Linked DNA regions of Homo sapiens. The protein of the gene in region 1 purifies or fractionates together with the protein of each later gene. This does not show direct contact. Each region holds a gene or a part of one and is shown on either strand. Other genes may lie near its edges.

Region 1 (4,618 bases):
ATAGACTGTGTTCACCTGAGACTCAGCAAGAAGAGGCGTGTCCCACCCCGAGTACTTCCCGTTGACCCCGCAACCGCCCCTGCAACGACGGGGATGGAAGGGGAGGGCGGCTTCGTAAAAGGCACCTGGGACCCCCACAACTAGCATTCCTTTGACAAAAATCAGAAATCTTTGGGAAAGGGGGAAGGAAAAGGGGGCAGAGTCCAGCCGAAAAGCCGACCTCAAAGAACCATTTTGGGGTATTTCTTTTCTCTTGACTGCTTGGGAAATGCCTTCGGTTCACCCACCACTTCTGAAGGGGCTTCACTTCTAAGGCGAGAGGCCAACGTCCCAACAGAGGGACTCTCACTTCTTTCTGCCATTTGTTAAATTGTTCCATAAATTAGTTGTTTTACATAAAATTTGGAACTACGATCTGGGAGGCCGAGGGGCTGCACCACCAGTAAGTCGCTGACTCAAATGGGCCCTTTAATCCCCAAACCCAAACTCTTTCCTCGATCGAACCGCTGGCCTCAACCTACAAGCCTCCTCCACCGCCAAAAGTCGGGAAGGGTTGGTCCTTTTGTTTTACAAATGAATTAAAATTAGATCCACAGGCCCGCGTAACGCTGGGGAATACCCAGGGCGAGGCCAGCTTCCAGGAGGTCAGCGCCAACACCGCCGGCAGGAATCTGGGGGGATGGGGAGGTCTCCTCATCTCTGAGCCTTGAGCACCAGGCCTGAATTTTCGCCTCTTTCGCACAGGTGCCCGACTCGGAGTCCGGGAGGCGGGCCCTCTTTCCAGGTACCCAGCCCAGCGTCAGCCTGGGTCCATCCTCCGCCACCCCACAGCGCGGGGAGCAGGGGAGGCCGAAAGCCGGGCAGCTTGGGGGGCCGGGATAACCCGGGCTGCAGCAACCCCGGGCGGCAGCAGGACTGGAGAGCTGGTGTCGGACGCACTGCAGAGACGTCCCTGTTTTCGGCGCGTCCTCCGACACCCAGCAGAGAGCTTGGCGCTCTCCGCTCTGCGCGCCCGAGGTCACAGCGCGGAGAAACCTGGCGGGGCCCCGGACTCCCCGGCTTGGGAAAAGCGATGACTGCCCTGAACTGCTGGGGCGTTCGAAATTTCCAGGGTCCCGACCCTCCGTGGGGTACGCGCGACTTCGGCGCAGATGTCAGTCCGCTGCCTTCCGGGTTGAGGGAGCGAGGACTCCAGACGACCCCAGGGCCGCTGTCCAGGCCCAGCCCCGCGTTCTCCACCTCGCCACCTCGCTCTGCGGCTCCAGCCTGGAGATCTACGGACTTCATTGCGATCTCTTGCGCAGTGTAGTCGCCCTCTATCCCTAGCCCCGAGTCCCGGGTAACCCAGGGGCCCCGGCGAGGCGAGTTTCTTTGGGGCGAGATGTCCCGAGCCGAGCAAAGGGGCCGCGCATTGGACGGGGCTCCCAAGCCACAGCCCTGGGGGCCTTGAGGAGTCGTGGTACGGTCCAGGGCAGTCGGGGCTGCGGGGCCCGTGAAGCCAGACGAGGCTACGGACTTAGGGTCCCTGCAACCAAGACCGCGAGCGACTGTGGACTCGGGACGGATCGCACAAAGGAGGAAGGGGGAATCAGAGGGGCGTCCGGTCCAGGACGTGTCAGGCCTGGGCGGGGCGGAAAACTGACACCAGGGCGAGGACAAGGATTTCGCTCCTCCAGGGCTGCCAGGGGAGGGGCTCGCCACCGTCACTCTCCATGGGCTCTGGCCCCGACGGTGTTTAAAGGGCGGAGGGCTGGGCCGGGCTGGTCGCACCCGGGCGCTGCTGGCGGCCAAGCTGGATGGGTCGCCAGTGAGTTTCGGTGCGGCACCGCTGGCCCAGGCCCGGGCGCGGCTGGACATGGCCACCTACTGCGACGACCTGGGCCCCTCCTCGGCCCCGCCCGGCCAGGCCCAGGCCACCGCGCACCCCCCGGGCTATGAGCCAGGGGATCTGGGCGCGGTGGGCGGGGGCCCCCTCCTGTGGGTGAACGCGCCAGCGCTCAGCCCCAAGTCCTACGCTTCGGGTCCCGGGCCTGCGCCGCCCTACGCGGCCCCGAGCTACGGGGCTCCCGGCCCGCTCCTCGGCGCCCCGGGCGGCCTGGCGGGCGCCGACCTCGCCTGGCTGAGCCTCTCCGGCCAGCAGGAGCTGCTGAGGCTGGTGCGGCCGCCCTACTCCTACTCGGCGCTCATCGCCATGGCCATCCAGAGCGCGCCGCTGCGGAAGCTGACGCTCAGCCAGATCTACCAGTACGTGGCTGGTAACTTCCCTTTCTACAAGCGCAGCAAGGCGGGCTGGCAGAACTCCATCCGCCACAACCTGTCGCTCAACGACTGCTTCAAGAAGGTGCCCCGCGACGAGGACGACCCAGGTAACAGCGGCGCGCCGGCTCGCTCCGTCCAGGACTCCCCATCTTCCCGCCGGGCCGCGGGCACTCCGGGGGTGGGAGCACCTTAGACAACCTAATTTCTCCCTGCGCGGTTGGGGATACCCGGGGAGGAGGGAGAAGGGGAAGAAGTGCTTGGGCATGGACAGGTTCTCAGACAGCGGCTGAGCCCACCACAGGCCCGCGTTTACAGTGCGGCGGTCCCGGGGCTCTCAATCTCTGTGCGCTCCTTCGGAGGAAGAAGCGGGAGAGCCAGCAAGCTGGGTGACCTTGGGAGTGACTCAACTTCCCTGGGCCTCAGTGCCCTACCTGGTAAAATGGGGAAGACAGCGCCTACCCCAAGGATGGGCAAAACAAATAGGATGCCCGTTTGGAAAGCTCTGGAGCCTACCTGGGGGCCTGGCGTGGTCTGCGCTGTCCTTGGCAGAGCGGCTGGCGGAGTCCCACCATTAGCATCTCGCAGGCCTTCCTTCACCTTAACGGGGCTCGGCCTTTCCCAGGGCTCCCTTCCTCCTCCTTTCTGGATTGTCACTTTCTTCCCAGTCCTGCTGTGGAGGCCCATCGGGTACAGAGTGCCCGTCAAGGGTGGAATGGGGGCGAGGACTCAGACCCTCTGTAAGGGCCAGCAGGGGATCTTTCTGAAGCTGACCTCCTCGCTGGCTCACACCACGGCCCGTCAAAGCTCGAACCTTCTGAACTGGGCTGTTTCTTCTTCTGCAGGTAAAGGCAATTACTGGACCCTGGACCCCAACTGCGAGAAGATGTTTGACAACGGGAACTTCCGAAGGAAGAGGAAGAGGAGAGCTGAAGCCAGCGCGGCCGTGCGCTCGGGAGCCAGGAGCGTGGGAGGGGCCGAGGCGCCAGCGCTGGAGCCCCCGAGCGCGGCTTGCCTGGACCTGCAGGCCTCGCCCTCTCCATCCGCACCCGAGGCCGCCACCTGCTTCTCCGGTTTCGCTTCTGCTATGAGCGCTCTGGCTGGCGGCCTTGGCACCTTCCCCGGGGGCCTGGCGGGCGACTTTTCTTTCGGGAGGCGGCCACCGACAGTCGCCACCCACGCTCCCCAGACCCTTAACCCCTCCCCTGGCTTCGCCCCTGGCCACCAGACCGCGGCCGCCGGCTTCCGCCTCAGTCACCTCCTCTACAGCCGGGAAGGGACCGAAGTTTGAAGGGAGGCTGGAGGCTAGCCGGGTGCGGGTCCAGAGGTGCTGAGCTCAGGCCTCCGGTTTCCCCTGGTGACAGCCCCACGTGTTGGCGTTGAAGGCCTTGGTGCCCTGGGAGGAAGCGCAGAGCCGGGGGCGGCTCGGCCAGCAGGGAGCTGGGCTGAGCGGCTCTTGGGCTTTGGGGTGGGTGGCCCTTCTGCTGTGCACCCCTCACCCAGGCGACCTTCGGAACCTCCCTGCTCTGCCTCTAAGTCCAGCCGCCCTGGGCGTCTAGAACCTGTGCTCTCGAGGGATTTGCCTTGAAGGGGCGGCGGGTCGGCCCTCAGCTCCAGCGTTTTCCAAGGAGGCTGGCTGACTCCAAAGAGCCTTAGAGCAGATGGGAAGAAGGTGGGCTGCCAGAGCGGCCCAGGTGGTGGGGGCCCTTTCCACCTCCACCCAGCTTGGCCCACCTGGCTCAGGGCCTTCCCTTCTGCTTCAGGGAAGCTGCCGCAGGGGCTGGGGGACAGAGCTCAGGAGCAGCTGCAGTGGGCTCCAGGTGGGCCAGGAGCCTGCAGTGAGGGGATCTGAGACAGTTGGCATTGGGTCCTGTGTAAGGAAGGTCTTGCTAATGGTTGGAACTGCTGGTGGTGGGAGGGAGAAGCACTGCGTGGGCAGAAAGCGCCCTTGGGATACCAGCTCCCTTCCCTGTCACTCAGCCCTGGTCCTTGATGACCCCCCTCTAGGACAAGGCAACTCCCCAGGGCCCCGCCACCACTGACCACAGGAGCGGTGCCCAGCACCCAGGAGTTCCCCAAGGGTCCAGGTTTGTGCCACCCACACCCACACTCACACCCACACTCACACCCACACTCACACCCACACCCACACCCACACCCACACTCACACTCACACTCACACCCACACTCACACCCACACTCACACCCACACCCACACCCACACTCACACACACTCACACCCACACCCACACTCACACCCACACACACTCACACCCACACACACCCACACTCATACTCACACTCACACCCACACTCACACCACACCCACACTCACACTGACACCCACACTCACACCCACACT
Region 2 (3,982 bases), on another chromosome or scaffold:
TGTCTGTAGTGACTTCAGGGCTACCATGGATGACAATTTGGTGGGTGTCAAAGGATAAGCCGGGGGTGTGCTGTCATGGTCTGGCTGGCAAATTTGTCTTTTGACATTTGAAAGGGCCTTTAGTTCCTCGGAATGACTTGGGTGTGCCTCATTCATGGAGGCAGGCACTGAGTGACTTTTCAGCTCATAAACCTCTCATCAGCCATGGCAGACACAACCAGTATGATCCTCAGAAATTTCAAGTAAAGGACTCATTTCAACATGTGAAACAAGCTTGTGACTTAGATAAATAAACCATGCTTTGACAAAGCAAGGACTCTCAGGCCGGGCGCGGTGGCTCACGCCTGTAATCCCAGCACTTTGGGAGGCCGAGGAGGGCGGACCGCCTGAGGTCGGGAGTTCGAGACCAGTCTGGCCAGCATGGTGAAACCCTGTCTCTAATAAAAATACAAAAATTAGCTGGGCGTGGTGGCAGGCGCCTGTAATCCCAGCTACTCAGGAAGCTGAGGTAGGAGAATCGCTTGAACCCGGGAGGCAGAGATTGCGGTGAGCCAAGATTGCGCCATTGCACACCAGCCTGGGCAACAGAGAGAGACTCTGTCTCAAAAAAAAAAAAAAAAAAACGAAAGCAAGGACTCTCCTGGGTTACCCACCACTGACTTGATTTATAGGGTTCAATTTTCCTGTCCAAGTAGAGATCTGCACGAAAAGCTTTTCTACAACAGTCACAAGACCAGAGATGATCTGTATTGCTCAAAATATTTTGCAACTGCTTCAGACCTTGAAGCAATCCCTGTTTCAAGATCTTTCACACGCACATTTGGCAAATGTTTGTGAGGGTGAAATAAGGTTTTGTAAGAGATAAAAGCAACTAAAAACAAAGGCAGGCCAGGCTGGAGAATACAATATTCAGGATCCAAAATGCTAGACGCCCCTCCTCCAATCCATCCCAGGACATAGTTGGGCCAAGGTCCAAGTGAAGGAGGCCAAGGAAGCTCCTCAGCCAATGTCTCCAGGGGCCATGGGTCTGCCTGCAGCTGCAGCAGGAGGCCCTGGGACCCCAGGGAGCAGCAATGAGCAGCCAGCTGTCAGCCTGTCCTCTGGGTGGTGATGGAGTTGGAGCTATGAAAGGAGCTTTCAGAGACCCCAATCTTGGCCACCTCAACACAACTTTCCTTAGGTGGCTCACAGTTCCCATGGACAATTTACAAATAGAAGGTGGAAAGAAAGAGCAGGGCCACCCACTTACACTCAGAATAGAACCTTCCAAAATGACTCCTGTGAAGGAAACACATTATTAGCTATAATCTGGTATATCCGCTTGCTCTCTGTTTTAGATCCTCTCAGCAATTTATAGTCACAGACATTCCTATGACCAGTGGCCACCTTGGCAAGCTTTGGGGATGTAAGACTGTAAAGAAACAACCCCCTGGCCCCGACCAGCCCCAGACTCAGCTCCAGGCCCCCGCCAAGCCCACTCGCACAGGAAGGGCCTACTCACAGTTGCTTTCCCGGGTTCAGTGAGCCCATGTCAATCTCCTGGTCAAACTCAGTGCGAATGTCGTTGAGCGAGCCATCGTCCCCGAAGGCCCCCCACTCCATATTGATACACATCCGCCCCTCATCGCCTTCCACCATGTCGATGTGGCGCATCTCTTCCATGTAGCAGGCGTTGCTGCCCGTGCCTGCCAAAACAAGGGACGGCTATGCACACGCCTGCTCCGGCCCCTTCCCACCCCTCTTCCCTCTTATACTACTGTCCCGAGACTGCCCGGCCAGGATGGCTGGGATTTCTCACTGCAGACTCTGGGGGCATCACAATACATGGTCTAATCTTCTGCCACCCCCAACTCCATGAGTCCCTGCTCGGCTCTCCAAAGTGACTGGACCATTATCTTCTAATATGAACTACAAAGGAACACCCAGCCCATGGGCCCCTTCTCCCTTTCCAGCCCACACCCCCATCCCTTGGCCAGCACGGGCCCTTCATGCACGGTGTTCACTCACCCACAATGAGACCAATCTCACAGTTGTGGTCATCATAACCACAGGTCATCATGGTCCCAACTGTGTCATTCACCACAGCCACAATGTCGATATCAAAGTCCTGTGGAGACAAATGGGAGGGCTCTGACCTTCATCATCACAGAGGGCGACTTTCCTAACACCAGCTATATATCACTCCTCCTCCTCCTCCTCCTCCTTCTCTCTCTCTCCCCCCTCCCTCCCCATAACTCCTCCTGTGATAAGACTTTTAATTCATTCTCTCTCTGAGCCATTCCACTCCCATGTCAACATCATTCCAACTTTCTTACTTGGAAATCACATTCAAGTCTTCTTCAGGTTAAGAACTAAAGAGCTTTTCTTGTGCCAAGGCTAAGATTATTTATCCATTTGATAATCTAAAAACCCCCAAAGCAGCAGATCGCATACAAAATTATTGAGTACATGTGTCAGGGAAAAGAGAACTCTCCTTAAGCTCCACGTAAGCAAACAATGATGAGTCAAGGACACTCAGGGAGTCTTCAGGGTGGACCCAGAAAAGCCCACAGACCCCAAGCTCCTGCCACCCCACTCACCCCTCTCCTCTGGATGGCCTTCCGGATCAGAGCCACAACGTCTCTGCCTTCCACTCCACTGGACTTGAATCCCTTGGTCCATGAGACCAGGAAACTCTGGAAAGGGACCAAGAAGTGAATATTGATTTCCCACTAAAACTGAAACTCACACCACACCCCTCAAACCTCCGTCATTAGCAGAGACCTCTGCCACTGGGGTAAAGTCATGATTGAATTTGTGTGTTACTTCCTGGCTAGCCTAGGAAAAAGAAACTCAGGACAACTGGCACTATAAGACACAGTCATGTGCCGCATAACAATGTTTCAGTCAGTGACAGATTGTGTATACTGCGGTGGTAACAAGATTATAATAGAGCTGAAAAGTTCCTATTGCCTAGTTAGATACACAGATATCACTGTGTTACAATTGCCTATAGCATTCAGTACAGTAACATGCTATACAGATTTGTGGCCTAGGAGTTAACAGGCTGTCCCATACAGCCTAGGTGTGTAGTAGTCTATACCATCTAGGTTTGTGTAAGTGCACTCTATGATGTTTATACATAAGTGAAATCACCTAATAAAGCATTTCTCAGAACATATCCCCATTGTTATGCAATACATGACTGTACTTGTGTCCTTACATCATTAACTCTCCAAGTATCTTTCTTCCAAGGGTCTTTATCATAACACTTTAGACTGGGGAGTTCCTGATTTCTCATTCCTGTTTCTGTGGAGGGGATAAGGATACTGTGCAATGTGTGTGGGAGAGAGGGTGATAAAGGGCACTCCCAACCCCCCAGATTTCTTCACCAGCCCCCCCATCGACATACACAGTCACCCAGAAAGGCAGAACTTCATCTCCACAATCCTCCAGTGCTACCACCACCACCACAGCAGGTGGCTCAGAAGTCCCTCTCAGCCCTCCCAGCCCCAAGAGTGAAGCAACAAGTGTCTGAGGAGCCCATCTTACCTCGTCTAGTTTAGTCTGGTGGCAGGGGAACGAGAAGGTAAAACCCAGTGGGAGCTTCTTGTCTTTGATTTGTAGCTTATCCATGAAGTTAGCCAGGCATTCGGCAATGTGGTCAAACAGCTAAGGATACATGACACAGGGTGGTGAGCAGAGAGGTCGAACAGCATAGAGATTAAGGGCATGCACTTCAGGCTCAGCACGTAACTAGCTGAATGTGTGCAAAACCCATATCTCCTCTGATATCTTCATTTGCTCACCTACAAAAAGGGAATTATAACTGGACCTGTCCTCATGGAGTTATGAAAAGGAGTACATGAGTCAATACATAAAGGCTTAACATTAGTTTTTGCCCACTAAATATTGTCCTCTACTTAAGCCATTTTTCTAAACTGCTGTCAAGATAACCCTGTGAGGTAGGGGAAATCATGGCCAACATTAATCAGAAAGTCAC
Region 3 (3,982 bases), on another chromosome or scaffold:
GTAATTCACTCTATAAAAGAGCTCCTTGTTGTTACTGGATGGTGGGGGTGACGCACAGTGGAAAACTGTGTTTACACCTTTCAGAGCTGGGTACAGATCCTGGAAAAGCAAAGAAAGACAAAATAATCATTCCTGCTTTGACAGGTCAATGGCATTCTCATGTTTTCACCCTCCAACCTGTGGCTTGTAGGTTCCTTGTCTTATAATTCTATAATCAATATGGAAATACATTCTCATAAAAGAATCAATGATACCGAAGTACATGGGATGGAAACCAAGTTGTCCCTTTAATCACCTTCTCCCCACTAACTAGTCCCCAGTCAAAAGGGGTTTGGGGCATGAGAAGCCTGTGGGATCCACACAGAGGCAACATCCTTTTGGGTGGTTCAGAGCAGGCACCTAGGAGGTAAAACTCCCCAGGAAGGTGAACTCAGATAGAAATTATGAATCACATGAAAAAGTTCCACACCATTAAAGACAGTAAATAGCCAATACACAGGCATATTCCTTCCTGTGAAACTTGACACAATACAGCAACCTGAAAGGGATTTTTAAAACAGGTCTGTTTGATTTACTGCTAAAAGGAACAAGAGCTCCTGAGAGAAATGGCTGATTGCAGATCTGGGACAGGAAACACACAAGAGGAACCAGGCACACCTTGTACCAGAGAGTGAGGATGCTAGCTAGCTAAGACTACCGGGGTCACGTTAAAAGCACTCAAGGGCCAACCTGAAGAGGTTCCCACTGGGCAAAGAAGGGACAGCTTGACCACAAGCAAGAATAAAAATTCAGGTAAATAAAGGGAAAGAATCAAATATTTATTCTGCATTAAGGTATAAAGACTGGAGCTACTAAATGAAGACTAATAGCATGTCATCATTTTGTCAAACCTTAATTAAGTAATATGATCTAAGTATGATTCATGTTTGTCACCAAAAGACAATTATGACAATTATGTGCCAATTAATATTTTGCCACAATTTCCTCTCTCTACATACAATCACATGATTTTTTTTTTGAAACCAGTCAAGTAAGTTGCAGACATCATGCTGCCTCTAAACGCTTCACAGGTATCTCCTAAGAACAAAAGCATTCTCCTAAATAACCATAAAACAATGATCACACTCAAGAAACTTAACAGATATGATGTTCTTATCCAATAATTAGTCTATATTCAAATTCCCCCAATTGTCCCAGTAATGTCTTTTATAGCCTTTTGTTTTGGGGTCCAGGATCCAATTGCGCATGACATGTAGTATTTAGTCCTCAGGTCTCTTCCATCTCTTTTAATCTGAGACAAATTCCCGTCTTTTCTGTCTTATTTTAATGCTGCCATTTTTCAAGGGTTTGGGTTATTTTATAGACTGTCCTTCAGTTTGGATTAGTCTGTTTCCTCAAGATTAGATTCAGGCTTAATGGTTTTGGCAAGAATACCACATCAGTGGTGGTGTGTCCTTCTCAGGGAATTACCTCAGGAGGTGCAAGTCTGTCCCACTTTTGGTGATATTAAGTTGGAGCACGTGGTGATGATGATGGCTGCCAGATTCCGGCCATCAAAAAGGTACCTTTTCCTTTGCAATTGATAAGTAATCTGTAGCATGTTAATTCTACCAATTAACCTCAGCATTTATTGATAGTCCTTGCCTGGAACAATAATCAATGTACTGGGTATAAAATGGTGACATTCTAAGTCTAGCCTTTTAATTCATGGCCTTTACATTTATTAGTTGGCATTCCTCTGTAGAGCTTCCCCTTCTCCCTGACCCCAATTGTTATTTTCAGTATTTCTATGGACCCATGGATTCTTTTTTATTTTATTTTTTTGAGACATTGTCTCGCTCTGTCGGCAAGGCTGGAGTGCAGTGGCATGATCTCAGCTCACTGCAACCTCTGCCTCCCGGGCTCAAGCGATTCTCCCGAGTAGCTGGGATTACAGGCGTATGCCACCATGCCCGGCTAATTTTTTTGTATTTTAGTAGAGATGGGGTTTCACCATGTTGGCAAGGCTGGTCTCGAACTTCTGACCTCAGGTGATCCACCTGTCTTGGCCTCCCAAAGTGCTGGCATTGCAGGCGCTAGCCCTGCACCCAGCCCACGGATTCTTTTTGAAATCAAAATGCATTGTCATCCACTACTGTTATGTTTTGAGAGGCTCAAAATGCTCAAAATGTCCCAAATTTGGCCAGGGGAAGCCCTTCAAGTTGGCTCTTGTATCTTCTTGGCAGGTCCCCATTCATTTTGTGCTAAGAAAATGTCCCAGACTCATTTTGTACTGCCCTTGCCCTAGGGTCCTAGAATGAGCAATTTTCCCAAGAAGCCCTAGTTCTTTTTATGGGAAATGGTATATAGAAACCCAAATCTGAGCACTAGGCATGCTTATTACTATTGGAGTATCAGAAGTAATAATACCCCAGAGGGAAAAACTGAACCAGAGTCCGATCAAGTCTTTAGTCCAGTAGAAACATAATAAAAGTCACAGTGACTTTAAAGTTTATAGTAATGACATTAAAAAGTAAAAAGAAAAAGGTGAAATTAACTTTAATGAGACAGTTACATTCCTTTTTTCTGTAGGTAGTTTTTGAAATCTGGTGTGGACTTCACACTTACAGTGCTTCTCAATTCTGACTTGCCACATTTTAAGTGCCCAATAGTTGCACGTGGCTAATGGCTGCCTTAATGGACAGCGCCATCCCAGATCTACCAGTATACAGAAAATACTGGAGGACAGAAGGGCATGTTAAACGCAATGGGGATGTAATCGGCAAAACCCAGACTGTGGGAAATACTACAGCACCATAAACATGGTTTCTACTAAACATCAGTTATTCAATAAATAGACTGAAGTTTAAAAAAATGAAGGGAATCGTAAATTAAAAGAGAGCTAAATATTTCAACCAAATCCATAGTCTTGATCTTGCTTGGTTCCTTATTTGGAAAAACAATAATACAAAAACATTTATAAGACATTCAGGGATATCTGAACGCTGGCTAGATACTAAGGAACTACTGTCAATGTTTTTAAAAATAATCCTTATCTTTTAGAGACAAATACTGAAATATTTGCAGATAAAATGATATGATGTCTAGGATTGACTTCAACATAATCTGAGGAGGAATATAGGTGAAACACGATTGGCCATGAGCAGAGGCAGGGAGGAGGAAATCTCCTATGAAATAGTACAAAAAGAGAAAGAGAAGGAATGCAAGAAAGAGAGGATAAGAGACAGATGATACAATGAAAGACCACCATATGTCCAGCACGGCTTCTAGAAAGAGAGAAAAGAGAGAAAAGGGGTAGAGTTAATCTTTGAAGAATTTTCCAGAAATGAGGAAAGACATTCATCTTCAGATTGCACAGGCCTACCAGGTGTTAAGATTTAAAATCAAAACTAAAACTCAGGCCCAGATATATTCTCTATAGACTATAAATGATAAAAAATAAAATCCTAAAAACCATAAGAGGGAAAGCCAGACAACCTACAAACGAACAACGACCGGCTTGAGAGTAGACTTCCTGTCAGCAACAAAAGATGCACAAGACCGAGGTGACTTTAAAAGTGTCATGGGCCGGGCGCGGTGGCAACGGTGGCTCATGCCTGTAATCCGAGCACTTTGGGAGGCCGAGGCGGGTGGATCACTTGAGGTCAGGAGTTCAAGACTAGCCTGGCCAACATGGTGAAACCCTGTCTCTACTAAGAATATAAAAATTAGTCATGGGTGGTGGTGGGCGCCTGTAATCCCAGCTACTCGGGAGGCTGAGGCAGGAGAATTGCTTGAACCCAGGAGGTAGAGTTTGCAGTGAGTCAAGATCACGCCACTGCACTACAGCCTGGGCGACAGCGCAAGACTCCGTCTCAAAAAAAAAAAAAAAAGTGTTATGTAATACATATTGTGTGTATAAAACTATATAACTATATATACATAAACTTTATCTATATGTATGTATATCTGTCTCTCTCCTCTCTCTCTCTCTCTCTCTACT
Region 4 (4,467 bases), on another chromosome or scaffold:
AACCCTAGATAGCCTGTGGAACTCCCAGATTGCCGGTCTTGGACCCCGTAAAGGAAGATGTAGGAAGGCCCCAAATCAGGATCTAGTCCGCGGAGTTGCCTATTTGAGGGGAGTAACAATGGGGATTGGGAGAGACTTTTATGCTGAATTTCTAAACTCCCAGCTGAATCACGACTAGAACAAGGATAGCACCTCCTGAAGAGCAAAGTTTAGATCTCGTGTATCAACTGAATGATTCTTGAATCCTTTCTTCCCTTGCATACGAGCTAAGTAGGATGTCTTTGCAGCAGGAAATAAAGGGGAGAGGGTACAGAAACCCGGGTCTGGGAAATGGAGAGACTGGGCCACATTCATGGAGCCAGGAGGGGGAAATCAATGAGCATCATCTGACTTTGCAAAGGCTTTGATCCTTGTCTCCTTCCCCACTTCCGAGACTTTCCCATTCTTTCCTGGAGGTATGGCAGGTTATACATGGATCCATTCACCTTTGCGGGAGTCTTTGGCCACTGAACATAGTTAAAGAGCCTTTATTCCAATGTCTTGAAAATAGATGAAAATATTAAACAGAAGTGGAGCTGTTTGGCTCTTTTTGCAAGCCAGCAACGAGGATTTGGGCTTCCTTAAGTTATATGTGTTTAAGACAGTAATTTTTAAAAGTCATTATAAGGACTTTGGGCTGCAGGAACTCTCCCTGCCATTCACCGGCTTAATGGACATTGTGCCTTCTTGGGCATTCCTGTCCAGCCCGCGTCCGGGAGATACTCATCTCCTGCAAAGGAAGTTGCCTCTTTCCCCAAAGAGCAAATTTTCAAAACATGTAAGTTACAACTTGCTTCCCAACACTCCACTAAAAAAAAAAAAAATGCTGTTTCCCTTCCTTCTTGCCTCCATCCTACATCCCCCCGCTCCCCACTCCCTGCACCTTGACTCCCTATTTCAGTATCAGTGTTTAATTCTACACTCGCCTTTGGTGCAGCCCACGGGGGCGGGGTAGTGGGAAGCAAGGAAAGATGGTCGCCCACCTCATTCCCAAAACATGTGCACTTTTGAGGCTTCTGATTGGAACACATTGTCCCCAGACATCACAGAGCCTTGTGCTGTGGCTTCTGCGATGTCTTTGGAATTTACTAAAAACAGATAGACTAAGACCCCTCCCCACTCCACAACAAGCAAAAACACACACAAGCGCGCGGGCGCGCACACACACAAACACACACACCCCCTCAGTACCCCCCACCCCCTTTTTAAGCAATGCTTTGTTGTGCTAAAACTAGTTGGACGAGTTAGGGTGTTACTGTTGCTCCCGAGGCCCTGGCCAATAGAACCAGATCCACCCCGCTGTGCGTAAGCGCGCAATTAAGGATTTAACCAAGGCTGTGCTGCGCCTCAGCCAGCAGTCAGCCGGCCGGAGACAGAGACTTCACGACTCCCAGTCTCCTCCTCGCCGCGGCCGCCGCCTCCTCCTTCTCTCCTCCTCCTCTTCCTCCTCCTCCCTCGCTCCCACAGCCATGTCTGCTTAGACCAGAGCAGCCCCACAGCCAACTAGGGCAGCTGCCGCCGCCACAACAGCAAGGACAGCCGCTGCCGCCGCCCGTGAGCGATGACAGGAGTGTTTGACAGAAGGGTCCCCAGCATCCGATCCGGCGACTTCCAAGCTCCGTTCCAGACGTCCGCAGCTATGCACCATCCGTCTCAGGAATCGCCAACTTTGCCCGAGTCTTCAGCTACCGATTCTGACTACTACAGCCCTACGGGGGGAGCCCCGCACGGCTACTGCTCTCCTACCTCGGCTTCCTATGGCAAAGCTCTCAACCCCTACCAGTATCAGTATCACGGCGTGAACGGCTCCGCCGGGAGCTACCCAGCCAAAGCTTATGCCGACTATAGCTACGCTAGCTCCTACCACCAGTACGGCGGCGCCTACAACCGCGTCCCAAGCGCCACCAACCAGCCAGGTACATGGACAGGGGGAAGGCTGGGCAGATACAGGGCGACTAGGACGCTGGGGGCGCGAGATGGGGTGGTAGATTGGGGGTCACAGCGGTTCACGGCAGTGGGGGCGCACGCGGCAGAAGGGAGTAGGACTCAGACCCTCCAACAAAGAGAGTTTCTCGGGCCAGCATTTTAGGGATTTTTAGTAGGAGAGCCCTGTGGAGGTTCGAACTAGCGTCTCTCCCCTCCGGCACCTTCCAAGGCCCTTCAGTCGCTGAATTCCCAGCTTGCCCGGCCAGGAAGCCGGCTAGGCTGGAAAGGGGATAGGGGTGGAGAGAAGAAAGAATCAAGCAGCTCCTGGCGTTTGCGTAACAAAGAGAAGGTTACTTGGGAATTTTGGTAAGCGTGCTGGGTTGGTGCGAGTGGGAATAGAAGGCTGCCTCAAAAACTCAGTCAGGATTAGTTTGAGAGCCGCCACAAGCTAGCACGGTGCGGGTGCCCTGAGCACGCTGGGTGGGGGTGGGGGGGTTAAGGAGTTGTAGCCAGCCAGAGAAGAGCGCGCCGAGAGTTTTGCGGTTTATCCAGGCATTTCCAAAAACAAAAAGCCATTTAAAGGTGGAGGAGGGTTGCTGAGGGGTCACGTTGTAGGATAGATTTTTTTTTCTGTCTCCATAGGCGCCCACAATTTGTCTTTCCGTCCTCCTTTTTCGTCCGCTTTGAAACTTACTTAGAGAGTTTAAGAGGGTTAGTGAGCTTGGGCGGTAAGAGAAAGGCATGAGGCTCGGCGGAGAGGTTTTATTGGTAAGGTTTGATCTCTTCCCACCAGCACATTAATAATCCTGCTAATATTAGCATCCCCTACTCTGGCAGAATTGAGACCACAGCCCTCATCCTCCACACTTCTCCCTGGAACTTGACACACACACACACACACACACACACACACACACACACCCTGGAGAGGTTCTCCGTCAGTTCCAGAGGGGTGGTAGTTTTGAGGAAGGGGAGTTGTAGCCCCAGGGCAGGTTTGTACAACACGCGTTTGGCAATCCCTCCCCCTCCCGCCCAAACCCATACTCATGACAGTGAGAATCTCATCCTGACCTGCCGCCCCTTTCCTACGAAAACACCCCACCACCGGTTCCTTCTCAGTGTGTGACTCTTGCTGAACTTTAAAAGAGAGCCCCGGGTTGAGGTGTCTACGTTTCTTTCACTCTCTCTGTATTCCGTGCATAAGTGGAAGATTTCTTTTTTTTTTTTTTTTTTTTGCCAAGAACATATTAAGTCTATTTGTAAAAGAAACCAGACACATCTGTGCCCTCGCAGATCTGCAGCGAGATTATGGGGGTTGCATAATCGACCCTCTGTCTGCGGCGGCCCCGACCGCTTGCTGCTGAAGTGAAGGAGCAGTTTGCTTGTGGGTCTTTGAACTTTGGAGACCTCGGTTAGCGTCTTCCCTGCCCAAGAGTCTGGCTTCTGCGGGCGCCCGAACAGACGCCGACAGAAGTAGGGTCACGGCCCAGGGCCACCTCCTTGAAGCCTGGGGAGGGGCTGGTGTTCTTGAAGCCTGGGGAGGGGCGGAAACGCGGAGGAGCACAGGGTGGGCGTAAAAACAAGTCCGGGAGAAGAAGCAACGACCGCAAGAGCTGAATCCCAGATGCCAAGGAGAAAGCAGTGTTGTAGGAAGCGCTTTGCACAAACTATCTGAATGAACAGAGTAGGAATTAATCAGAGGCTATCCCGCTTTTCCATATTTGGGGTAGGTGCATATTTATCGCGGTCCTGAAAAGCAAAGGTGGTGGTGATATGGGCAAAGAATGAAGACTGAGTGGTAAGAAACTCTAGGACTCTATTTGAGGCCCTTCCGCAAAAGGGGCATTGTCTGGTGACAAGCTTTAACTGAGTCTGTTTTGATTATTTAGAGAAAGAAGTGACCGAGCCCGAGGTGAGAATGGTGAATGGCAAACCAAAGAAAGTTCGTAAACCCAGGACTATTTATTCCAGCTTTCAGCTGGCCGCATTACAGAGAAGGTTTCAGAAGACTCAGTACCTCGCCTTGCCGGAACGCGCCGAGCTGGCCGCCTCGCTGGGATTGACACAAACACAGGTAAATACGGCGCTGCCATGCACTAGACCTGCCTGAGCTGCACGTCTGGTTGGGTCGCGCGGTTCAGTCTCGATGGGACTGGAGCTGTTTTGACAGTACCCGTGAGAAACTAACAGACCCAAAGACATCAGCCCCTATGCTTTAACTCGGTGAGTCAGGCCTTGAGACGGTGGGGATGGTATTCATCAGCGGTCTGGAGATACCTCCCACTAACCGCGCCCCCCGCCCCCACCCCGTAGCGGGCCTCCGGAGCTGTGGGGCCAATTTCGCGGGTTGAAAGCAAGCGGAGGGTTATTTCTAGGGCGGCCTAGGCAGCCCAGAGCAGCTATCTGGTTTTCTTAACAATGTAGAGCCTCCTCGGGGGTGAGCAAGGCCTGGTGTTCTCGCGGTGGTCTCAGGCTAAGAAAAGGCTGAGAACGTCGCCTGGA
Region 5 (3,982 bases), on another chromosome or scaffold:
GGAGGCATCACCACACCTGGCTAATTTTTGTATTTTTTTGTGGAGACAGGGTTTTGCCATGTTGCCCAGGCTGGGAATTTCTTAATTTTTTAGAAACAGGGTCTTGCTCTGTCACCCCAGGGTGGAGTGAAGTTGGTACGATCATTTGTCACTATAGCCTCAACTCGTGGGCCCAGGCCATTCTCCCTCCTCAGCCTTCTAAGTAGCTAGGACTACAGGCACATGCCACCAGGCCCAGCTGTTTTATGTTTCAATGTTTTTGTGGAGATAGGTTCTCATTTTGTTGCCCAGGCTGATCTCAAATGCCTGGCCTCAAGAAATCCTCCTGCCTTGGTCTCCCAAGGTGCTGGTGTGAGCCCCCATGCTCACAGGTGTGAACCCCCATGCCCAACCTCACTGTTGATTCTTGACCAAATCAGCTATTAATAGGGCGGTTACTAAATGGTGGTTCTCTAACTTCATCCCTCCTTCATTGATTTGTGGGTCAATGGTCACTCTGTGGTAAGGAAGACTTCTCTCTTTGCTATTTATTTATTCAGGTATATCAGTGTGGATCAGGGGGCTGGGGGGAGGTGTGCATTGTGCTATTGAACAAGTTGTAATCTGTCCCTGCTCTCGTTGATTTTGATATCCAGATTGCCCCTGTTACAGCGGGAGCGAGTTACAGCGGGAGCCTGTAACTCGGGCCTGTTTCTGTGTCTCCCTCAGGACACCAGCCATACCCTTTGCTTCCTATGGCCTCCACCACACTAGCCTCCTAAAGCGACACATCTCTCATCAGACGTCTGTGAATGCAGACCCCGCCTCCCACGAGATCTGGAGGTCAGAAACTCTGCTCCAGGTGAGAGTTGAGCTGGTCAAAAGAAACTGTTCAGCCAGCTGGGCATGGTGGCTCGTGCCTATAATCCCCAGCACTTTGCGAGGCCTAGGTGGGCAGATGACCTGAGGTCAGGAGTTTGGGACCAACCTGGCCAGCATGGTGAAACCACGTCTCTACTAAAAACACAAAAATTAGTTGGGCGTGGTGGCAGGCGCCTGTAATCCCAGCTACTCGGGAGGCTGAGGCGGGAGAATCGCTTGAACCCAGGAGGTGGAGGCTGCAGTAAGCTGAGATCGTGCCATTGCACTCCAGCCTGGGTGACAGAACTAGACTCCATCTCAAAAAAAAAAAAAGAAAAAGAAAAGAAACTGTTGCCACCTTCCACTATGTGGGGCAGAGTCCCAGAGGCGGCCCCTCAGCCCGGGGCTGATTCTAAATTGTTGATATTTTCCTGCTGTGACATTTAGAAAACATGAAAGTAAATCTGCCCACCCTTTTAACTTGAATGTCATTGATGGCGTTTTTCATCCCAGGATCCCCTGTCCATGGAAGTTGTTTCGTTTTGCCTGTGGTGATATAATTGTTGCAGAGTCTTTTGGTTTCCATGACACTGAATGGTGAGGGGTCTGTGCAGCCTCCACAGGCCTTCCATTGATTCAGGGGATCCAAGTAGTAGGTGACAGATTTCCTTGTCTGCCCAGAGGGGCTCCAGCCTGTCAGGATGGTATGGGCTGGCTCACTTCCTGAGTGCTGGCCAACTCCCAGGTCCTGGCTGTGTCTTCTAGGCACACAGAGAGATTCAGCAGGTGCTGCTTCTGACGCTGGATCCTGGGGCTGACTTGGTAGCCACAGCCTTGCTTTACAGCCTGGCATGTAGATAAGATAGGATTCTATCTCCCATCTTATATGTAACTCCTAGTATTTGGGGTGCTGCACTTTTTGAAGCCTCCATACCATTTCACAGCATCCTCGCAGGGTGGAATGGTAAGAACCGTTGCCCCTGTTCACAGAGGGGACCATGATGCCCAGATGGCTCTTGGCTGTGTGGACCGTAGGCTGTGCTGGCCATGAAGAGGGCAGAAGATCATGACACAGCGCTTATAGGGAAGAACTGGAAGGTTCTGCTGTTCCCTGGGCCAAAGCATTTTTTTTTTTTTTTTTTTTTTTTTTGAGATGGAGTCTCCCTCTGTTGTCCAGGCTGGAGTGCAGTGGCTCAATCTTGGCTCTGTGCAACCTTCACCTCTCAGGTTCAGGTGATTCTCCCGCCTCAGCCCCCCGAGTAGCTAGGATTACAGGTGCCCACTGCCATGCTCAGCTAATTTTTGCATTTTTAGTAGAGATGGGGTTTCACCATGTCTCGAACTCCTGACATCAAGTGATCCATTTGCTTTGGCCTCCCAAAGTGTTGGGATTACAGGCGTGAGCCACCGTGCCCGGCCCTTTTTGTTTTTTTAACTAAGAAAAAAATTTAATTATAAGATATATATAACATGAAACTTATTGTCTTAACTATTTCCAAGTGTACAGTCAGTAGTGTTGAATACAGTCATGTTGTTGTGCATGCAATCTCCAGAATGCTTTTCATCTTGCAAAACTGAAACTGAACCAGCCCGGGCGCAGGGGCCTCACACCTCTAATCTTAGTGCGTTGGGAGGCCCAGCAGGAAAGGATTGCTCAAGGCCGGGAGTTCAAGACCAGCCTGGCCAGCATAGTGAGACCCCATCTCTTCTAATGAAAAACAAGGAAATCAAACCATTAAACAATTCCCCACCCAGCACCTGGCAACCACTATTCTGCTCTCTGTTTCTATGGAGTTGACTCCTAGATCTCATACCCAGAGTATGCGTAGCACATAGTACTTATTTGTGTGTGAGTAGCATGCTTCACTTAGCATAATGGACTAAAGATTAATCCATGTTACAGCATGTGTCAGAATTTCCTTGCTTTTTAGGGCTGAATAGTGTTCCATTGTGTGGATGTACCACATTGTGTTTATTCATTCATCTCTCAGTAGACACTTGAGTTGCTGGGTTTTTTTTTTGTTTTTTTTTTGAGACCGAGTTTTGTTCTTGTTGCCCAGGTTGGAGTGGAGTGGCACGATTTTGGCTTACCACAACCTCTGCCTGTTGGGTTCAAGCGATTCTCCTGCCTCAGCCTCCTGAGTAGCTGAGCTGGAATTACAGGCATGCGCCACCACGCCCGGCTAATTTTGTATTTTTAGTAGAGACACTGTTTCTCCATGTTGGGTCAGGCTGGTCTCGAACTCCTGACCTCAGGTGATCCACCTGCCTTGGCCTCCCAAAGTGTTGGGATTACAGGTGTGAGCCACTGTGCCCAGCCCTTTTTTTTTTTTTTTTTTTTTTTTTTTTTAAATCAGAGTCTGTCTTTGTTGCCAGGCTAGAGTGCAGTGGTGCAGTCTTGGCTCACTGCAGTCTCAAACTCCTGGGCACAAGCAATCCTCCCACCTCAGACTCCCAAGTCGCTGGGATTATAGGTGTGATGCCTCACCACACCCAGCTAATTTTTGTATTTTTTGTAGAGACAGATTTTCATTATGTTGGCCAGGCTGGTCTGGAACTCCTGGCCTCAGGTAATCCCACCCACCTCGGCCTCCCAAAGTGCTGGGATGACAGGGTTGAGCCACCATGCCTGTTGGTTGCCTTTTTACTCTATCTATAGTATTTTTTCATGCTCAAGAGTGTTGATTTTGATGAAGTCTAGTTGTCTATTTTTTTTCCTTTTGTTGCCTGTGCTTTGGGCATCATATCTAATTAATCATTGCCAAATCTAGTGTTATGAAGTTTTCTCCCATGTTTTCTTCTAAGAGTGTATGGTTTTAGTGCTTATCCTCAGGTCGCTTACCCATTTTGAGTTATTTTTTGGTGATGGTGTGAAGGAAGGGCCCAGCTTCACTGTTCTGCACATGGGTATTCTGTGTTCCCAGCTCTGCTTGTTGGAGACACTGTCCTTTCCCCACTGGATGGTCTGACACCATTGTCAAGAATGGTTTGACTAGCTAATGCTTTTTTGCAGGTTTTTGTTGAAATGTGGCTTCATCACTATTCCTTGGAGATGTATCAAAAAATGCAGTCCCCTCATGCCAAGGTATGTTTTCAGTTTTTCTTCCCACCTCCTGCTTCTGACCCTGCTCAGCCTGCTGCT
Region 6 (4,417 bases), on another chromosome or scaffold:
TTATGGATGATGAAATAGAGGCTGAAAGATATTAAGTGATTTGCCCAGGGTTACTCAGCTAAGTGGAAGAATATGAACTTGAAGCCATGATGATAGAGTCCATACTTTCCCCTTTGTGCCCAATTTCTTTGTCGTTAGCCTTCAGAGAGGTGGCATATCTTGGTGGTTACAGGTATAGAAGACTCTGAAGCCAGGTTGCCTAAAGTGAGATGACCTTAGGCAATAAATGACTTGACTTTGCATCTCAGAATATAAATGATGGCAAATACTACTGTTATGAACCTCCTGTTTTGTAGGTGAGATACTAAATGTCCAGAAATGCTTTTAAGCTTTCCAAAGACCTGACTTTACAAATGACTATAGCTTACCTCCAGTGCTAGATAGATAACACATATTTCAGAGGGCTGATGGTTTTGGAAAGGTAAAATCATGAGTCCAGTGTTCATTTTTTTCTCTCTTAATTATCAGGTACTTCATAGACAGCAGTCTCAGCCAGCCAAGGAGAGTTCCCCTCCCAGAGAAGAAGCGCCTCCCCCACCTCCTCCGACTGAAGACAGTTGTGCCAAAAAGCCCCGGTCTCGCACAAAGATCTCCTTAGAAGCCCTGGGGATCCTCCAAAGCTTTATTCATGATGTAGGCCTGTACCCAGACCAGGAAGCCATCCACACTCTTTCGGCTCAGCTGGATCTCCCCAAACACACCATCATCAAGTTCTTCCAGAACCAGCGGTACCACGTGAAGCACCACGGGAAGCTGAAAGAGCACCTGGGCTCCGCGGTGGACGTGGCTGAATATAAGGACGAGGAGCTGCTGACCGAGTCAGAGGAGAACGACAGCGAGGAAGGCTCCGAGGAGATGTACAAAGTGGAGGCTGAGGAGGAAAATGCTGACAAAAGCAAGGCAGCACCTGCCGAAATTGACCAGAGATAATGTGAACTTCTACTAGGCAAAGCAATACATCGGTCCAAGGATTTTCTGCTTTCATTTCTTTAAAAGTTTTTTGTTAGTTTGTTTTTTGTTTTTGTTTTTGGGTTTTTTTGGCTTTATTTTTGTCTTTTTATGTCTGTTTTGTTTTTCTTACCCTTTTGGACATTTCTTTGTTGCACAGGATACACCTATAGACTGAATAAGTTCAGTATTTCCGAATCAGACATCGCCTTGGCAAAGACACTAAAGCGTTACACTTTATCCCGTCTCTATGACTGGATCATAGTCATTATAATCACAGGAGACTCTGCCTTCATTATCCTTGCACTTAACGGAAGTTACATCAGGCAAGTACCAGGATGAAAAGAACTATGAAATAAATGAAGGAAGCTACAAGTGTGTGTGTATATGTATATGTATATATCTCTATATTTACATATATATATTAAAATTGCATGGGACAGAGACTTTGCAATCCGAAAGAATAGACTGTGAAATGAGTTCTTAAAGAAAAGACTTGTTTATGTATTAAAAAAACCACTTCACAGTGAGTCGCTTTGGCTTTTTGATAAACTGCGGCCTGCTCTCAGGGTGGGGTGACTATTTTTGAATTCCTATTTATTTTTTGTGTTTGTCCCTGATTTTTTTTTTTTAATTCTATGGCTTCCTATCTGGCAGCTTAATGGGTAATTTTTGAGGTATGTATTTAACAAAATAAACGACACTGCCGAAAAAAAAAAAAGTGAAGTGAAAACAATCAGGGCACATTAAAATGATACAAGTCAAATAAATCTTAAAGACACAATGCACACTTAAAATGACTCAATAAAATGACTTGCTACGTTCCGTTATTCAATTTGTCATTACTGTAGTGAACAGATGCATTTCTGTGGAATTCCAAATAAGTAAAACTGAAATTCAGTGCAGAGAAAACTTTGTCCACTAGTGCAAGTCTTGATCAAATGACATTTTGACATTGGACATATGGAATTCATAGTATGAGCCACATTTTGTTGTGAAATTTATTTACCTGCTTGTGGCTTCAAATCTGAAAATTAATAAGCCTGCTCGTTTAAAAGTTGTTTGTTGTTGCTGTTTTTTTGTCTTTTTGTTTTTTACTAGAAAATAGTTCAGTGTAATATTAAGTTAGAAAAGAAGTTGCTGCCCAGTTAAAGGGGCTCCCTCTCAAATAAATCTCCATCCTTCCCTCTCCCAAAAGACATTTCTGATTTCTGCTTCACTTTGGGCTTCCTCTTCTTCGTACACATTCCATCTACCTAATCAAACATTTTCAGTCCCTGATCTCTCCTGTCCCTTTTCCTGGGATGACAGCCCTAACAAGAACTGTTTTTGAATCGTTGTGCAGCTCCAGGCAATAGAGTATGTGAAGCGATTTCAGTAGAATCACTTACTCATCCTAAAAGAAAACATTATCCCAGTTACCTACATCGCAATTACCTTATGTAAAGCAGAACTAATGCTGACTGGATGTTTAATGGGATGAGCATTAAAGCTGCAATCTACTATAGTACTCCAGATCTCTTTCGGCTTCCTATGAGAAACACCAGAAGCATTACTTTCCACTTCTACTTACAGTAATTGCAAGAGGAGACCTCACATTCAGGACTGGCCTAGTGAACGTAATCCATGCTTTAAACTGGCCATTAAACAGTCCCACATGGTTGGATTTTTTTTTTTTTTTTGAGTTGTGCTTTCACAAAACCTTGTCAAAGACCTCATGCAATATCACTTTGAAAGTTATTTTCTGTTTACTACACAAACATTGTAATATAACTGTTAATACTATTTATATATTTGAAAGGTATAAAAGGTAGGAGTTAAAAAAAAAACCTCTATGTGTAGATATTAACTCAGAACTTACAATATACAGGGAGAAGACATGTTGCAATACAAGCTAATTCTAGCTGCTCAGTAACCTCTGGAGTTTTTAAAGGGACATTTTCCTGTACTTTTTCAAATAATGATGTTTAAAAATTATCTTGACATAAGCGTCATATACCTTTGCAAAAGGATGGTTGTTTGCAGTTAGCCCTGGCCCCATCCTTCCTATTTCTGTAGTATGCTGCAGCTTTAATCAGAAAGTCCATGGTTGCTGCTTCCTGATCTCCGAGTTACTCTTTCCAAATTGTCTTCTTACACTGTTGCTGAAGGTCACTCTGTACACGTAATGGAAACTGATTTTGCCAAGCTCTTACAAGGTGGTTCATCTATCGATGGCATCCGCATTTGGTATCTTTTACACTTCAACCAAAAATTTATTAGGTATTTTTCAATGCTAAGTCTTGCCTTTTATTTTTTAATTTCACTGCCAAGTTTGCAGTGGTTCTAAGTGAATCTGTGGGCATTTTAGCCTGTGGTCTTGCCAGATCTTTGCGAATTACAATGCATATATGTCTATTTATTCAATATCTGTCATATAATATCTATTTGGAAGAAGAAACTTTCTCTTGTAGTGCCTCTTGACAAAGCACAATTTCCCGCCTTTTTTTTTTTTTGTGAAATGAAAAAAACAAATTGTGTTTTATTGCGGTATCAACAATGTGAATAAGGATTAACATATTGTAAATGTTCTTTTTTCCATGTAAATCAACTATCTTTGTTATCACTAAGTGATAATTAATTTTTAACTTATGTGCATTGTTAGGCTGTTAGAATTTTTTGGTTGTTAAAATAAACGCATTCAATAAATATGACTTTGTTTGTCAGTTATTTTACTGGGCATTATCTGCTTTCCCACTTAATTTTTCATGCAGAGAGAGACCTGGTGAGTCTTAGGAAAATTTGTACCCTTATTTTAGAAACAAGACAGTGGTACCTGCAATTACAGATATATGAGTCCTGTACAGTGCATGGATTTAATAGCACATGTGAATGTATGTGTGTCTCTGTGTGTATATAAACACATGCATGCTCACTTCCTTTATCCAATCTTTTGTCATATACAAACAAAACTCAAATGTATAAAGATATATTTATAGGCTGCTGTTTTATTTTTCTAGTGAATATTTTCTGTTTATAATTAAAAAACCACAAATGACTGCGTGTCAGGAAACTTTTGGAGCACATATGTCCATGGTTAATGGACATAATAAAAGTCTTTTATATTTAGAGCTGGGGTACCATAATGTGTGCATGGAGGAATGCTGAAAGGATTGATGTATCTGAGAAATGTGTGAAAATGATTTTTTAGAAAGTACTTACAATGGAAAAAACTGCTCAAAAGACTAATGTTAATAAGGAAAGAGCAAGTGCTTCGCTTCAGAACTGGCAAAGAAAAAGTAAATTAAAAAGTGATTTTGTTTTCTTTTGATATTGTAAATGTTTTTCCTGTTTATTTTTTTTTCCATTTTTCTGCATTTGATTGACATACAGATGTAACTTCTCTTTCTTCCTCGGTTTCCCTTACCTTTTTTAACAGCCCATGAACCATGTAGATATGTTTTAATGATAATTTGTGAAAACCGAGTGT
Region 7 (3,257 bases), on another chromosome or scaffold:
GGAGAAAATGAAGGCCAAACAGAAGCAGGCTCCAGCTTCTGCAAAAACTTGGATTCACAAATGTCCCTGAACAGAAAATGAAGCTCACTTCAGAACACACACTCTCTGCCTTGAAAACTAAAGAGACTATTACTTCCTTTTCACATGACCACAAGTCCTCTGATGGAAATGTACAGCAGAAACTCTTGAGAGAGAGGCTAAAAGCAACTCTGTTCTCCCCCTTCCCCTAGACTTTTCTTACGAAAAGTCAATAATTAAGCAAATTGCTTAACACTTGGTTCCAGTTCCTGCCTATCTGGAGTTTAAATGCGTAATACACCATTAATTTCCACGCTGCAGTTTTTATTTTAAAGAAAGTAACAAGATGTCTTTACACTGACACTGAAAATTCATCCATTTTAGAGCCAGGAATTCCCATGTTACACAGGAAAAAATAGAAGTCTACTGAATTAATTTTTTAAAAGAAAAGAGATCAGATTAAATATTTCTTTGTTTTTCCTTTTGGAAACTTTTATGTATAATTCTTTCTGCCTGCCTACTTTTCTGCAAAAATGAGATGTACAGATTTCGGTTCCCTGCTATGAAAAGTGATGTGGTAGCAATTTTATAAATGTTGCTTTCTGATTTTTATCAGAGTGAGAAAATTAAAATTATTGATTTGCAAGTAGTAAACAGTTCATATTTTGATTTCCCCTCATTTTAGTTTAATATAATTTGCAATAAATGTACATATTGTTGTTTGTTTCATAAAGCATATCACTTTAAAATGGTTTTTACTCCTGTGATTATGTTGGAATATTTGGAATTTTAAAGGAGTAAAGACTGTCCAGCATTTGGTTTTATAATGTTTGTCACCAGATTTTTATTAATGTAAAAAAAATCAATTTTTAAAAAATAGTTGGACTTTGGCAGCTTTTAAGGAAAGTTGGAGGTGTTTTAGGATTGCTATCAATTTTCAGCATTGTGCTATTTGGAAATAAGTGTTTTGCTTTTGTCTGATGGTCTGGGCTCATTTTTATGTTTATTTTAGAAAACTGTTGCATCAATATATTATGTTTCTTGGCATTGTTCAGCATAGGTAATGTGTGCACTTTATGTGTACACATAATCATATTTAAGTTTTTTGCATAAAATAAATGCTTCTAGATGTCATGGCAGTCTTTTTAATCTTTTTATCATATGCTTTCTTGTGAATTTTTTCATGTTAAAGAGCTAAAGTCATAACATGATTACAGTCAACTCTCCATTATCTATATAAAATAGTGACTAAGCCTCAGGTTTTTAATTTTGTGATAACAAAATAACGAAGGCATGTAAGACCTGATTCTGGAGGAACATGAAATTTGTCTTTTCTCATGTCCAGAGTTCTATCCTGCCCCCACTGTCCACTGTAGGGTCATCCGCAAAGCCCTAGCAGAATGTGCTCACTCCATTTCCTTACACGTTTCTAGCATGGGTCAGAGGAAACAACATTTGTGTTATAACTTCGTCTTGATAGGCTGTAGTGTACATGGGATGTAAAACAAACAAGTGTATCAAAGGTGGATGATTCTGTTAGAGTGAAGTTTGAGAGTAAATGTCACTTACGTTTCTCATAGATAATCAAGAGTTGGCTGTGTATTGACTGAAAGATGGGTAATTATTTTAAATATGCATTTACACACATTTAGGTATCAGAAGATGCTTAGGGAACAATGGATACCAATGATAGAAAATGATACCTTTACAGGGGCAGAAAAATCCCCACTCTTCCTTATTGCCTCTTCAGAACCCTTTAGAAAGTATAAAATATTGCCTCCAACATGCTGAAAAAGAGTATCTATGCATAAGTATCAGAGAAGTCCCTCAAGCAATCAGTAGGTGTGTTCTATTTAGAGAGAGTTTAAAGTTCTCTTAGCATCAGACAACTTGATTCCTAAGGTTTCCAGTGTGTCACCAACAAAAAGTGCATTGATAGGGACCTTTGTCTCTTCCTCCCTTTGATTAATTGCCCGGCATCACAGTTTACTAGATTACCAAGTGTTACATCATATTAAATAAAATGTAGCAGAACCATCTGCATCAATATATTCCTGTTTAGATTTTTGCAGGAGAGAAGTTAAAAGGATTTGCTCCTTGTATGATGTAAGTGGCCCACCCCAATTTTGTAACATGATGCAAGTGTCTGGCACTAAGGGAAGCAAGAGTAGGGTTGTGGAAAGACCAAGCTGATGGGGAGGGACTTGTTTACGGGAATTTTTTTAGTTTTCCTTTTCAAAGGAAAACATTAAAATCCCTTAGGAATTTGGTATTCACATCTCAGAGAACTACAACACAAAAGTGCAGACTTATATTTGAGAATTAATGTTAACCCTTTGTGTCTAGTTTGAAGCTTCTTGTATTTGTCTAAAACAACAAGCCAGAATTTTGTATCTCCTTTGATAAAAAGTGTGTATAATGTAAAGTAGTTTTGCATATTCTTGTGCTGCACATGGGCTGAATTTTTAAATTTTTTTTAAAAACTTGAAGCAGAACCTTGTAATTTGTGTAAATGACAAGTGTAAAATCCTACCATAAAATGCTAAAAATATGCACTGTTTCAAATAAAACCAAGAAATGCAGCATTATATAGTAGTGTGGAGCCCTGAATATTCATGTACCCCTGGTATGTCACAAGTTGATAAAATGTCTCTGCATATTTTCTGTTGAGATGCTGGAGTCTGAATATCCTAATTAGAAATCAAAAGCCACCTTCAAACTTCCTGGCTGGGTACTCTGAGGTAGCTTACAGTGGCTAAGGAAGAACATAGTGGATGATAAATTCTGAGGCACATTCGGAATTTCCAAACGAGGTTTGTTTTAGGGGGTGGCTTTTTTTTTGAAATGAGATCTTACCCTGTTGCCCAGGCTGGAGTGCAATGACATGATCATGGCTCACTGTAGCAATCCTCCTGCCCCAGGCTCCTAGAAAAGTGCTGGGATTACAGGCCTGAGCCACCAGACCTGGCCAAGAAGTTATTTTTTTAACCTAAGAATTTAATAGCAGCCTTTGATTCATATTAGTCTATGGTTCATCCATTCATTGCAAGTTCTGCACTCACATATTTAGTTCCATAACAAATTCAAGAGAGCAAGCAGATTACATAAATGTATCTGGAGTAAGAGGTGACCAGAACGAGAGGTAAGAAAGTCTATCATGGCTGGGCGCAGTGAGTCACACCTTTAATCCCAGCACTTTGGGAGGGTGGCCGAGGCAGGTAGGTCACTTGACCTAAAGA

Evidence for each region.
Region 2: the proteins of FOXI2 (region 1) and HK2 purify together in Homo sapiens (affinity purification with mass spectrometry; one large-scale study listed by BioGRID and IntAct). This does not show direct contact.
Region 3: the proteins of FOXI2 (region 1) and NSDHL purify together in Homo sapiens (affinity purification with mass spectrometry; one large-scale study listed by BioGRID and IntAct). This does not show direct contact.
Region 4: the proteins of FOXI2 (region 1) and DLX5 purify together in Homo sapiens (affinity purification with mass spectrometry; one large-scale study listed by BioGRID and IntAct). This does not show direct contact.
Region 5: the proteins of FOXI2 (region 1) and SMPD4 purify together in Homo sapiens (affinity purification with mass spectrometry; one large-scale study listed by BioGRID and IntAct). This does not show direct contact.
Region 6: the proteins of FOXI2 (region 1) and SATB2 purify together in Homo sapiens (affinity purification with mass spectrometry; one large-scale study listed by BioGRID and IntAct). This does not show direct contact.
Region 7: the proteins of FOXI2 (region 1) and PDS5A purify together in Homo sapiens (affinity purification with mass spectrometry; one large-scale study listed by BioGRID and IntAct). This does not show direct contact.

Annotation. Positions count from the first base shown.
Region 1 is NC_000010.11:127,735,419-127,740,036, forward strand, and holds the start of FOXI2 (forkhead box protein I2), read left to right. Parts: upstream 1-1,766; 5' UTR 1,767-1,855; coding exon 1,856-2,366; intron 2,367-3,101; coding exon 3,102-3,547; 3' UTR 3,548-4,618. UniProt on the Homo sapiens protein: Possible transcriptional activator.
Region 2 is NC_000002.12:74,871,969-74,875,950, reverse strand, and holds part of HK2 (hexokinase-2), read right to left. Parts: intron 3,652-3,982; coding exon 3,532-3,651; intron 2,676-3,531; coding exon 2,580-2,675; intron 2,108-2,579; coding exon 2,008-2,107; intron 1,686-2,007; coding exon 1,502-1,685; intron 1-1,501. UniProt on the Homo sapiens protein: Catalyzes the phosphorylation of hexose, such as D-glucose and D-fructose, to hexose 6-phosphate (D-glucose 6-phosphate and D-fructose 6-phosphate, respectively).
Region 3 is NC_000023.11:152,854,887-152,858,868, reverse strand, and holds part of NSDHL (sterol-4-alpha-carboxylate 3-dehydrogenase, decarboxylating), read right to left. Parts: intron 100-3,982; coding exon 1-99. UniProt on the Homo sapiens protein: Catalyzes the NAD(P)(+)-dependent oxidative decarboxylation of the C4 methyl groups of 4-alpha-carboxysterols in post-squalene cholesterol biosynthesis. Also plays a role in the regulation of the endocytic trafficking of EGFR.
Region 4 is NC_000007.14:97,021,757-97,026,223, reverse strand, and holds the start of DLX5 (homeobox protein DLX-5), read left to right. Parts: upstream 1-1,392; 5' UTR 1,393-1,600; coding exon 1,601-1,955; intron 1,956-3,587; exon of another isoform or gene 3,588-3,763; intron 3,764-3,854; coding exon 3,855-4,039; intron 4,040-4,467. UniProt on the Homo sapiens protein: Transcriptional factor involved in bone development. Acts as an immediate early BMP-responsive transcriptional activator essential for osteoblast differentiation.
Region 5 is NC_000002.12:130,164,317-130,168,298, reverse strand, and holds part of SMPD4 (sphingomyelin phosphodiesterase 4), read left to right. Parts: intron 1-708; coding exon 709-841; intron 842-3,853; coding exon 3,854-3,925; intron 3,926-3,982. UniProt on the Homo sapiens protein: Catalyzes the hydrolysis of membrane sphingomyelin to form phosphorylcholine and ceramide. It has a relevant role in the homeostasis of membrane sphingolipids, thereby influencing membrane integrity, and endoplasmic reticulum organization and function.
Region 6 is NC_000002.12:199,268,724-199,273,140, reverse strand, and holds the end of SATB2 (DNA-binding protein SATB2), read left to right. Parts: intron 1-468; coding exon 469-930; 3' UTR 931-3,636; downstream 3,637-4,417. UniProt on the Homo sapiens protein: Binds to DNA, at nuclear matrix- or scaffold-associated regions. Thought to recognize the sugar-phosphate structure of double-stranded DNA.
Region 7 is NC_000004.12:39,822,212-39,825,468, reverse strand, and holds the end of PDS5A (sister chromatid cohesion protein PDS5 homolog A), read left to right. Parts: 3' UTR 1-2,606; downstream 2,607-3,257. UniProt on the Homo sapiens protein: Probable regulator of sister chromatid cohesion in mitosis which may stabilize cohesin complex association with chromatin. May couple sister chromatid cohesion during mitosis to DNA replication.